Regions from separate parts of the Homo sapiens genome. Here region 2 is linked to region 1. Evidence: fine-mapped expression QTL. Tissue or cell type: monocytes. Region 1 holds a variant in brackets; the other region holds the start of a gene. All regions are shown on one strand. Distances are between the middles of the regions.

The links. PIP is the estimated chance that this variant, and not a neighbour inherited with it, causes the effect.
Region 2: it holds the start of IRS1, and the variant in region 1 is fine-mapped to the expression of IRS1 in monocytes (Quach 2016, PIP 0.95).

Annotation. Positions count from the first base shown.
Region 1 is chr2:226,271,652-226,278,095 of GRCh38, forward strand. No RefSeq gene overlaps it. Among named protein-coding and RNA genes, the nearest start is that of MIR5702, 380 kb to the right of the region's middle. The variant TAA/T (reference allele first, on the strand shown) is at 3,923.
Region 2 is chr2:226,797,007-226,802,696 of GRCh38, forward strand. IRS1 (insulin receptor substrate 1) reads right to left here and starts at 2,814. Exons shown (of 2, transcript NM_005544.3): 1 at 1-2,814. The coding sequence starts at 1,732. It also overlaps a transcript of RHBDD1 not described here. RefSeq lists an enhancer at 1-902 and silencers at 1,633-1,682, 2,673-3,092, 3,113-3,182, 4,143-4,352.

The DNA.
Region 1 (6,444 bases):
TGAGTGCCCAATCTGTATGCAACTGATCTGAATTTAACAATTGGCCTTGCCGCCTCTATTCGCTGAAAGGGAGAGGGAAACAAGCTGAGATCAACTAACCTTCAGGAACAGCTGGAAGAGAGAATGAAATGTGAACAACAAATAGCCAGAAAATGAGTGTCTCTTTTGTAGATGACATTTTTATATTACTGAAGTTCAGGAGGATTATAGAGACTTCCCCAATTTCTATCGTATCAACTTGCTTAGTCTTCTGATTTGTTTTTAACTTAAGGAAGTGCTTATTACCCTGTTACATAAGTATATATATAATAGGTTATGTATATTTGAAAAATACCATCATAGACAGCCAATGCACATTGGTCTTCATGATGAATGCATCCCATTCTCAGTCACCTGTTCACACCTCCAAGCACATGATTCCATTATCTCAGATGCAATACATCCTGTCACTCTTCTAACATTTTGGCACAGAACTTACCTAGTATATCTCTGAATGGCACATTTCTTTTTTGCTTCTTTTCTATCAAAGTGTATTCTTTTAGGAAAACAGAAACATATCTAGATAAATAACAAAGCACTCTGCCATGAAAGACCTTTAGCAAAGCAAGAGCCAGCCAAGATCTGTACGTGTTGATTACAGCCAATACATTCAACCAACAAACAGATGCAAATGGGTGTTAGAGGGACACAAAGCAATAAAGTTTTCTATTGTGCTGTGCTGCACAGCACTGCAATTATAGGCACATCTGCAGTCAATTATATTTTCTGAGGATTGAATGGAAAGGCTTTCATTTCATTTTTCTACCTGCACTGAAAGCCAGATATTGCCATTGCATACATTTCAGCATCCTGATTTTAGATCTTTCAAATCTAGTCACAAGACGACTTTCTACTCTGACAGACTCCCCTCCTTACACAGCCCTACCCTTGTGATGGCCAGCAAACAGATCAATGCTCTTTTCACAGATTCTGAGAAAATCTGCTGACTGGAGAATATTTTTTCACAGTAAGCAGATGAACAACAACAATAAAAAAATGGATGGAAATAATGAAATAAAGGATAAAGGAATTGGCAACCAGGAGCTTGGCTAACAGAAAATAATTTGCTAGTTAATAAATTGAGCTTGAACATGACAGAGTTGAAATGTAACCTTTGCAAGTAGAATCTACAGGAATTCAAATGTGAAATGTTGGAAAATACAGTGACAGAGCTGCCTTTGTTTAATGGTCATCCCAATGTTTTAAGGAGAATTGCAAATTCTATGAAAGTGGAAGAGAGAGATAAAAACAAAAGAATATCTTCTCCATTTTTTTCTAGAACAAAATGGATTCTAAAAGTATTTGTGAGAACGCTTAGATAAATGAACAAGATAAGATACACATATATGTCTACCTTGAATTTACTTCAGTAAAATGATTTTTAAAATTTATACAACTCAAATAACTTTTAGTAGATCTGCCCACATTTCTAGATGAAAAAATAATATCATATACTAAGGTTAAGTTGTACAGTATGGCTTGAATTATAAAAGCAGCTCTTCAGACATCTTCTTTTATGTATGTGCTTCCTGTCGACTTTAAATTTGCAATTTTTGTAGATATTTTTCTACTCTGTTGAGTAGGTTATAAAGGCTTAGATTAGGTAACTGCCCTTTCTTTTTCAAATGGAAGAACATGGTAATTTATAATAGCCTCATTAGTACATTGCAGAAAATCACTAAATATCTTGTCTCCACTGTAAACTCTGAGGCTGGTATCAGAACTATAGAAACATGAAATATTTCTAACATCCAGTGTTAATAATCTAACATCCAAAAGGGAAACCTGAAATCCCAGAAGGATATTTGTTACAGAATGTAGCACAAATTGACATTAAACATTTAAATTGCCTTTAGACAAAAATCTTCCCACCACAAGTCCTTCAGAGGCCTGGTCAAGCATTATCTGTTTTACTTATGAATTGACAAGCTAAAGATGTCATAGTGACTCAGAGATGGAGGGCCAACTAGAGACCAAGTGATCTATTAATAGATGGAGACATTAATAGATTCTGAGACAGGAAACTTTTTCCTTAAGGCTACATAATTAGTTAACACATTAAAGATGGAGTTGATGAGCTTCTACCCACCATTCCATAGTTCATCTGGAGAAGATATAATTCAGTCCTATTCTCAGTCCAATGAACTTTGGGAAATGTGCTTACCTTTCATGAGGGATGACCTACTGAAATTGTAAGATCAAAATAATTTATTCTATAAATGATGTGAGACAAATAATTACTTCTCTGTTTATGTGTCTGTCTTTTCCTCTCTCCCAAAATAAAAAATTAGGTCAAAGCTTCCTAAAGTACAACTTTTTGAATTAAGGTTTGCAAGATTTCCCAGAGTGTAATATGGGGATCAGTGATCAGACGACATATTCTGTGAAGACAAAAGGCCCTATGATTAACTATATCTAGGATATAAAAAAGTTTAAAATGTTAGGTCCTATTATGTATCCTTTTTATATTGTGTATCATTTTATCTTATTGTTTATCTTTTTTTTTTTTTTTTTTTTTTGAGACAGAGTTTTCCTTTGTCGCCCAGGCCGGAGTGCAGTGGCGCGATCTCGGCTCACTGAAACCACCGCCTCCTGGTTTCAAGTGATTCTCCCGCCTTAGCCTTATCCTTTTTAATAGGACATAAAAAGCTCTGAGTAAGCTCTGAGTAAGAGTCTTGCTTAACTTCATATGTTCCCAAATTCACCTGACTATGAAAGCCTTTTTTGCTTTACTCCTATGAGAATAATTTGAAACTACTGTCCAAAGAAACAGTTTTTGAGAAATATGTAGCTAAAAATGATGAACTGGGAAACTACACCTCCAATCTCTTTGTGTCCGTTGCTTCATTTCTGAGATGTCATATAAATACATTAAAATTTAAAACCCAGCTGTCTCAAAACCCCATTTCAGGATGATGCCAAGTTTTCCGAGACATCAAGGCACCCTGCCTGTGCTCTGATCTGGTAGCTGTGGCTGGCTAAGCAGGGTGCTTTGTTGATGAAGATGGCCTCTTCAAGGAATGATCAGATCTGTCCACTGGAACCAAGCACATTCCCCAGTAGTGGGAATTGTACACATTAATGCAGGAATAAAATTAATTAAGTAATGAATTCTCTGTTTATAAGTAAACAGAGGGGAGAAAGATGGACAGCTTGCTGGTCATGAATAAGGGTTTATCACTGAAATGGAAGAAGTAAGCCTACAAGCACAGAGCAGAGACAAGAGAGGGCAAGTGTCAGAGCTCCCATCTTTACATCAACAGCTCTCAATCAGGGGCCACAGCCCCCCCACCCGCCAGGAGAGGCTTAGGAACGTCTGGAGAAATGTTTGCTTGTTGCCACTGAGATGAGGTGAGGTAGAGGTACCATTGGCATCTATTTGTAGAGGTCAAGAATGTCACTTATCCTACAAGGCACAGGACAGCCCCCACAAGAAAAGAATGTTCTGTCTCAGATGCCAATAGTGATGCTGTTGAGAACCCCTTGTCTGTACTGAGCTCATTGTTTTTTTCATTTGGACAAAGTAGAAGTGGTCAACTGAGGTATTTTTGTGTAATGGCAAAGGCATATGCAACATTGCTTCATGAGATGCAGTATAAAGACTTCCCCATTGTTTTGTTTTCGTGTTTCTATGTGATGTTCTCTTCTCCAAGGGAGAAGGCTTCTTCTCCAAGGGAGTCATTATTAGAGACTGCACAACCAAGCCTAAGAGCAAACATGCATAAAACAACTAATAATATGAAATACAAGCAATGCCATCAAGTTCTCATGGTGATAAATCACTGCTTAGAGGAGAAGGTTTAAATGCTCTAGGAGGATTTTGCAATTCTTCTATTGATTTATTGCCACTTCCTCAGATTGTCTTTTAGAAGATTGAAAGAAA[TAA/T]GTCTATAAATAATCTGATTGCAAATAAAACATATTTGATTAATGTCTATCAACAGTGTGAATAGCAATGAACCCCTCTTATTTTTAATATGGATTTGTGTGTGTGTGTGTGTGTGTGTGTGTGTGTGTATTCACACAAATACATGCATGCTATTCTTAAAATATCTATTTCTTGAGTTTCCCAAATTAAGTTTAATGGTTGATGCAAAAATTATGACACTGCCTGATGTGGTTCTAAATGTATGTGAAAGAAATATTTATGAAAATTATATTATAAATAGAGGAAGATAAAAGGATAAGAGTTCTATATCTTATTTGAACTGGTAATATGACACTAATAACACATATATATATATAACTTTATATATACATAATCTTCATACACACATACATGTGTATATACACACACATATATAAAGTAATTCTTAGAGCAACTAATATATAAAAGCTGTATGTTTTGGTCTGTTTAGGCTATTGAACAAAACACCATAGACATGGTGAGAAACTTATTTTCTCACAGTCCTGGATGCTGGAAGTACAACAGTCACTGGAATATTCAGTATCTGGTGAGGACTAGCTTTCTGGTTCACAGACAGCATGTTTTTACTACGTCCTCACATGGCAGAAGGAGCACGGGCGGTCTCTGGGATCTCTTTTATAAGGGCACTAATCCCATTCACGAAGGCTCTGTCCTCGTGACCTCCCAGAAGACCACCTCCTAATACTATCACATGGGAAATTACATTTCAACACATGAATTTTAAGGAAACACAAACACTCAGTCTATAGCATTCTACCCCTGGTCCCCCAGCCCTTATGCTTTTAAATAATCCATTGTCAAAGAGGAAGTCTCAAAGGAAATTTAAAGAATACATTGAACTAAATACAACATATGAAAATTGGTGGGACACGGCTAATGTGGTGTTGAGAGGGAATCTGTAGCACTAAATGCACACATTAGAAAAGAGGAAAAGTTTGAAATCAGTCAGTAAGCTCCCTCTTCAAAAACCAAAAACAAAGAAGAGCAGGGAAAAAATAAAACTAAACAGAAAGGAGAAAATAGTAAAGACTATAAATCAATGAAACTGAAAAGAGAAAAACCATAGAGAAAATCAATGAAACAAAGAGCTGAAAAGATCGATAAAATTACCAAACCTCTAGCAAGACTGACAAAGGAAAAAAGAGAGAGAGAACACACATGCTATCAATATCAGAAGAGAAAGAGAAGATATAACCACAACCCTGCAGATTTCAAAAGGACACTGGAGGAATCCCACAAACAACTCTAGCCACATAAATTTGAAATTTTGGAGGAAATGGATCACTTTCTCAAAAACCAAAAACAACCAAAACTCACCCATTATAAAACAGATAATTTAAATAGCCCTATAGCTTAAAGAAATTGAATTTGTAATTTAAGAACTCCTAAAACAGAAATCTACAGGCACAGGTGGTTTCACTGCAGAATGCTAGCTAAAAAGTTTTTGTAGATTTTCTTTCTAAAGCTAAGGAAGTTCCCTTCTGTTCTTAGATTTGCTCTTTAAGAGAATCAAAAGACATGCTACAGAGTGGGAGAAAATATTTCCAAATTGCATATGGAGATGACCATAATATCCAGGAAATAAAAAGAACTCTCAAAACTCAAGAGCAAAAGAAACCAAACAATTCAATTAGAAAATGGTCAAAGATATGAAGAAATATTTCACTGAAGAGAATATATAGATTGCAAATAAACATTTGAAAAGACAGTCAATATCATTATCCATTAGGGAAATGCAAATTAAAACTGCAATGAGATATCACTACAAACCTATCAGGAAGGCTAAAGTAAAATATGTTGACAACACCAAATGCTCTGAACGATGTGGGCAAACTACATTATTCATACATTGCTGGCAAGAATGTGAAATGGGACAGCCACTCTGGGAAATAGTTTAGCAGTTTTTAAAAAAATCTATCGTGCAACTATTTTATGATCTAGCAATAGCACTTTTAGGCATTTATCCCAGAGAAATGCAGATTTATGTTCACACAAATCCTGTATGCAAATGTTTATAGAGATTTTATTTGTAATAGCCCCAAACTGGAAACAACTCAATTGTTTTTCAATGGGTGAATGATTAAACCAGCTCTGGTACATCTCTGTCATGGAATACTACTCATAAACAAAAAATAATGAAAATTGATACACAAACAACCTGAATGAACCTCCTGAGAGTTACGCTGAATGCAAAAAGTGAATTCTAAGTTATATTATGTATCATTCCTTTTATATAAGATTCTTAAAATGACAAAAATTATAGAAATAGAGAACAGGCCAGTGGTTGCTATGGGTAAGGGGTGTAGAGAGGAGGGAAGACAGAGTGGTTATCAAAGTGCAACATGAAGTATCTTTGTGTGGCAGAAATGTTCTCTATCTTAATTGTATCAATGTCAATATATTGGTTGTAATTTTGTACCCTAGTTTTGCAAGATGTTACCATTAGTAAAAACTGGGTGAAGGGTATATGGGATTTCTCT
Region 2 (5,690 bases), 520 kb after region 1:
GCACGAAGGCGGAGTGCCTGTGTCCCGGCAGTCGGCCTCCACTGCCACCTCCTGGTGGGTAGGCAGGCATCATCTCTGTGTACTCCTCAATGGAAGCCACTGAGGACTGGGACGGGGTCTTCTGGTGGGTAATGGTAGGGGATGTGCCTGCCGAGTGAGTTCTCTTTCGGAACCGATTATCCAGATCTGCAGCACTGGCTGCTTCATCCCCAGCCAAGGCTGGACTCGTGCCCAAGCCTGTTCCTGGGGTGCAGCGGTGGCCATTGCCACCCCGAGACAAAATGTAGTGACCGTTGGGGGCGGTCAGGGTGGAGGGCCCCTTGCCACCCATGCAGATATAGTTGCTTAGCTCCTCCTCACCGCGGGCTGGTGGGGTGTGGCCCAGGGAATCCGGAGTGACACTGCGGAAGGAACTCCGGAAATCGCAGGGACTGGAGCCATACTCATCCGAGGAGATGAAACCGCCATCGCTGGGGGAACCAGACACCGAAGCACTAGATCGCCGTGGGAAGAGACAATCCGAGGTGGAGCCATGGCCACTGGTGCTACTGGACGACAGACTGACCGGGCTGGTGGCCGAAGGCGAGCAGCGGGAAGCCGGCATGGGGATGGAGCGGCTGTGGTTGAGCGGGGGGTGCAGCCGGGCGCTGCCCCGATGCCGGTGGGCGTGGGTTCTGTTGGTGCTGGGACTCACAGGGCTGCCGTCCACCGAGGCTGGGCGGGACATGGTGCCTTCGCCGTCACTGGAGGCGCGGACACGGAAGGAGCCTGGCTTCCCGCCCACCATGCTGGCCGGGGAGGTGGCGGTGATGCTCTCAGTGCGTGATCGGCGGGTCAGCCCCACCTGGCTGGGCGGGGGATTGTTGAGATGGTGCCGGCGCAGGGGGACGCTGATGGGGTTAGAGCAGTTGGACGAGGACTGGCTCTTGCTGCGAGGGCGGAACTCATCACTCATGGCCCGCATGGCCTCCAGGATGGTCTCGTGCATGTTCTGGGCCACCACAGAGTCATCCACCTGCATCCAGAACTCCCCGGGCCCCGTCACGGCAGAACGGCCCACCTCGATGAAGAAGAAGTTTTCCGAGTGGCCACAGCGCCTGATGTTCATCAGCTGCAGCACCACGGCCGCTGCCTCCGAGTTCAGCTTCACGAAGCTGATGGTCTTGCTGGTCAGGCAAAGGCGGTAGATACCAATCAGGTTCTTTGTCTGACCCAGGCCCTTGGGCTTCAGGATCACTTGCCAGACCTCTTTGAATGCGGGTCCTGGGGGCACGTCACCGTAGCTCAAGTCCTCCCCAGCCTCACCAAGGCCGGAGCTGCCGCTGCAGCTGCCCCCACCACCTCCCGCCCCGAGGGCCGCAGCTCCGTCGTGGTGGCCCTTAGCACGGTTGTGCAGCTGTAGGAGAGCCTGGTACCAGCTGTCTTGCTCGGCCTCGCTGTCCGCCGCGATGGCAAAGTGCTCGTCCCGGGTGTAGAGAGCCACCAGGTGCTTGTTCTTGGAGTCAGCCCGCTTGTTGATGTTGAAGCAGCTCTCAAGGGGGATCGAGCGTTTGGGGGCGCTCGACTTGTGCCGCCACTTCTTCTCGTTCTCGTAGTACTCGAGGCGCGCCGGGCCCCCAGCCTCGCTGGCCGCGCGCAGTACGAAGAAGCGTTTGTGCATGCTCTTGGGTTTGCGCAGGTAGCCCACCTTGCGCACGTCCGAGAAGCCATCGCTCTCCGGAGGGCTCGCCATGCTGCCACCGCCACCACCAACGCTGAGCAGAGGGAGGCTCCGAAAAACAACCGGGTGGGGGGCGGAGGCTCCTCGCCGCGGCCCGGCACATGCAAACAGGGCTGGAGGCAGCAGAAACCCCGACTCTGAAATCCACGCCGCCCCCCGCGCCGGGGAGGGGCAGCTGAAGGAGGACGCAGCTGCTGAGCCCAGGAGAGAGCCCGACCGGAGTTTTCGGGCGCTTCACGCCCGGCGGGGAGGCAGTGCGTCCGGGGTGAGGGCAGCCCCGATCCTCCGAGAGCCAAGTCTCCTCTCAGCCGCCGCCGCCACCAGGAAGGAGCGAAGATGCATCTCTCGTCGCCCCGGCTGGAGTCCGGCACAGGGAGGCGACAGTCGGGGGTCCCTGCGGTGCCCCTCCAGGAGCGCGCGCGCGCGCGCGCCTTCCCTCCTGAGTTCCCCTCTGGAAGCAGCGATTCCCGAGGCAAATTAAATATCCTTGGGCAGGGGGAGGCGGGTTGCCAAGTCCCAACGTTGCACGGGGTTCTCCCTCCTCCTTCGCCTCCTCCCACCCCCCAACCGTCCCAGCCGCCACCAGCCGCCCAAATACCAGCTCAGTCGCAGAGACCGCGGCGCTGCGGCTGTTGCTGTTGCTGCTGCTGCTGCTGCTGCTGCTGCCGCCGCCCGCGGGCGCGTCCTCTGCAGCCCCCATCCGGGCCCATCTCGGCGGGTGGAGAAAGTGGCTTTTCCATGCGAAACGATACCGGGCAGCCACTGCAGCTGGGGACCGGCCGGAGGGACAGACTCATCCCTGCCCCTCGCTCCAGGCGGCTGGGGAGGAGGGGAGGGGACAAGGGCGAGAGGGGATGGGGGAGGTTTGGGAAGGGTTCGGGGAAGACGCCTGTTCCTCGGGAGGCGCTGCCGCTGCAGTTACTTCTCCCCTCCTCCCTCCTCCTCCTCCTCCTCGGAGAGTTGCCGAGAGCCCCAACCAAAACAAGCGGCGGCGTCTGGCTCTGCGCGCCGGCCCCCTCCGACCGCGCCGCCGTCTCACTCGGAGGAGAAAAACACGTGACGGAGCCTCCGCGCTCGGCAGCCGGGCAGCCGCCGCCGGGAGGCTCCCGCCCGGGTCTCTACATTCCGGGCCGAGCCCGCCCCGCGCCCGCCCCTCTCCGCCCCCCAGCCGTGCTGCAGCGGCGCCCGCGCCGACCCCGGCGCAGCGCTAGGACAGCGCCCCTGCGCGGCCGCCAGCTCCGGCGCAGCGCCTCCCTACACGCGCGCCAACCGGGGCGCCCCCGGCCCGCAGGAATCCCCGCGGCGGGCGCAGGCGGGGGTGTTTGGGTGGCTACCCGAAAGCACGAGGGGAGTCTGGGAAAACGGGAGGGGGCGAGCTCGGGAAGACGCAGGAGTGAGGGTGGGGGGCCACGGGGGGGCACTGCGGCTACAGAGCCCCGAGTGGGAGGCCGGGGGGAGGCGGGGGCGCCGGAGCTGGGCTGCCTCTTACCTATCAGGTAAGACTGACCCACGGGAGGGAGGTTTCTAGTCAAGGCTGTTTCCCCCAGGAAATTTAAAAGCTAGATTTCGGCTTCAGGGCGATAGGCCATGGTGAGGGGATCTGTATTTTTTAAGGTTTTTCTAAAGGACTTCTGGGCCAGCCTTCCACCTTGGGATCCCCAGATTTGCTGCCGTGAGGTACCTGGAAGGAACAGAGGGACGCCCAAGGGCAGTGACTGGGGGCAGTTATGGTCACTACAAAAGGAGAACAGGGATCCCCAGGAAGTGTCTCACGTCCGGCGCTGTGGAATTAGTTGCTGATCAAGTAGGGAGAAAATGTAAATATCACCTTTTCTCCTGCTCCCCTTGCCCATCCGTGTGACGGGGGGACTCACACCTAAGGCTGAGGGCATGGGGGAGGGGAAATGAGAGGTCCCTTATCATATTCCGAAGTCTATCCGTGACTTTAAAAAGCTGTTAGGGACCTTCAGAGGGTTCATAAGGCCAAAACCCTACTGTGCAAATATTGGCTGAAATGTTTGTTTCACACACAGCTCCCACACCCATTGAACCACCCTATAAGTTTTTAACCTTGACCACAAGGATAACAGGGAGAAAACAAGGATGGTGCCAGCTCAACTGTACAGGAAAATGGTTACTTCATGAGTGGACCAGATCAGCAGCCTGGGTCTACTTGAAGCGCCCCTTTCAGGGTCACCTTGCGGTATCAGTCTCCCCACAAACAAACGCTCCCCAGAGTTTTTTTATTTTTTAAGCCGACCTATAAACAAGCAGTTTGTCCCTGCTTGCTCGCCTGGCACTAAGGACCCACAGAGATGTCACTCGGTTTAATGCTGTCTCATTTTGATGCCTGGCCCGTTTGGGGTTGCCGCCCCTTTACTACGCCGGGACCCTCCTCGGCCTCAGGCTCCCAGGCACTGCAGGATGCTGGCTGGGCACTCAGCAGTCGAGGCGCTGGGCATGCTCAGTGGCTGGGACCCGGCGGGCCGCGGGGGAGCGCGCCTCGGCCCAATGCGGCTGAGGGGCGGAGCGAGTTTCCCGGGGAGGCCTGCTGATTGGTGGGATGGCCTGTTTTTCAAGCCTTGCACTGCAGAGGGAAGGTGGGGGTAGAAGGGTTGAGGGTACCAAGGTAGGTTGCAAAGCGTAGTAAAAAAAGAAAAAGAAGATGATGATGATGAAGGAGAAAAAGAACCATAGGCGCCATTCAGGGGTGTGCGATACGTAAATTAGGGGGATTGGGCATCTGCAGAGGGGCTCCTCCCCACCCAAGCCTGGGAGCCTCTCGTTTCTCCTCTCCCCTTCCTGTTCCCGGTCGTCATGCAGCCTCATCTAAACCTGGTTAATCTATAATTTGAGTACACATGTTGAATTGAAAGCCCTCCCTTCTTTTCCTCTGACAGCTTGGTGATGTGGGCACACGTGCCCACTACAGCAAGGCTATTAATAGCAGATATTTGGAAATGGAAGCGAGGCGGCACTCACAGTGACCGAAATTCTGGGGGTATAGAGTGCCTTACAGGGGGTAGGGCAGGGAGGTGCAGAATAAAGAAGCCTGAAGTTGGTGGAAAAGTGTAACTGTGTGCCTGGTTTTACCCTAGACAAGAAAAAAGAGAGATTATAAAAGGGTTGTTTACTAGTAACAATGTAATCCAGATAAGGCCAAAGGGCTTTTCACAGGTTTGATGTTTAGCGCTGGGATGGGGGTAGTGGAGTAATTAACATTTTGTAAGACAACAAATCAAATCCATGGACATTTACTTTTCAAATGGCCCTGTCCCTACCTCCGTCCCTCCACCCCCCACCCCCCAAAAAAAGCTAAATAAAGGTACTGTACCTCTATGGGGGAAAAATACTCTTTTCTGGAAGGAGGGGAGGGTTGGAAAATTTATTTGCACGTACCTCACAATTATCTTCATAGGAAGGATTTTGATCATAAAAAGCTAATTATGATAATAAACCTTTTAAAAAATATATCTCTCAGTGTTAAAGCATTTCTGCTTTAAAAAACACAATTTCAGTTGCTAAATATTCGATAAAAATTATGAAATAAGCCTCACTGCTGTGACAAATTATGTTCAGACCAATGGGTTTCCTATGGAAGATAATCACTGATCATAGGATATTAGTGCCATTTTTTCTACTTGCTGATGTTTTACTACCAATTTAAAGGTGGTTAATATTTGTTATAATTATACTACAGTAAATTCAATTGTTCTCTACAATTGTTTTATTAATGGGCTAACTGGAAATTCATTTACATTTGGTTCATGTAATATATAGAATAGAAAGAGACGCGTTTGTGGGAACTCACTGAAGTAATGCTGAGCAGGTATGGGTATTATTCTGTCACCTAAGCTAAATTAGTCTTTTGGTGTATTGTAATGAAATACACTGTATGAAAAATTTACTCCCCACTGAAAATTCACGGAACAGAAGAACAAGCTATTACCAAAATCTGTTGCTCAATGCT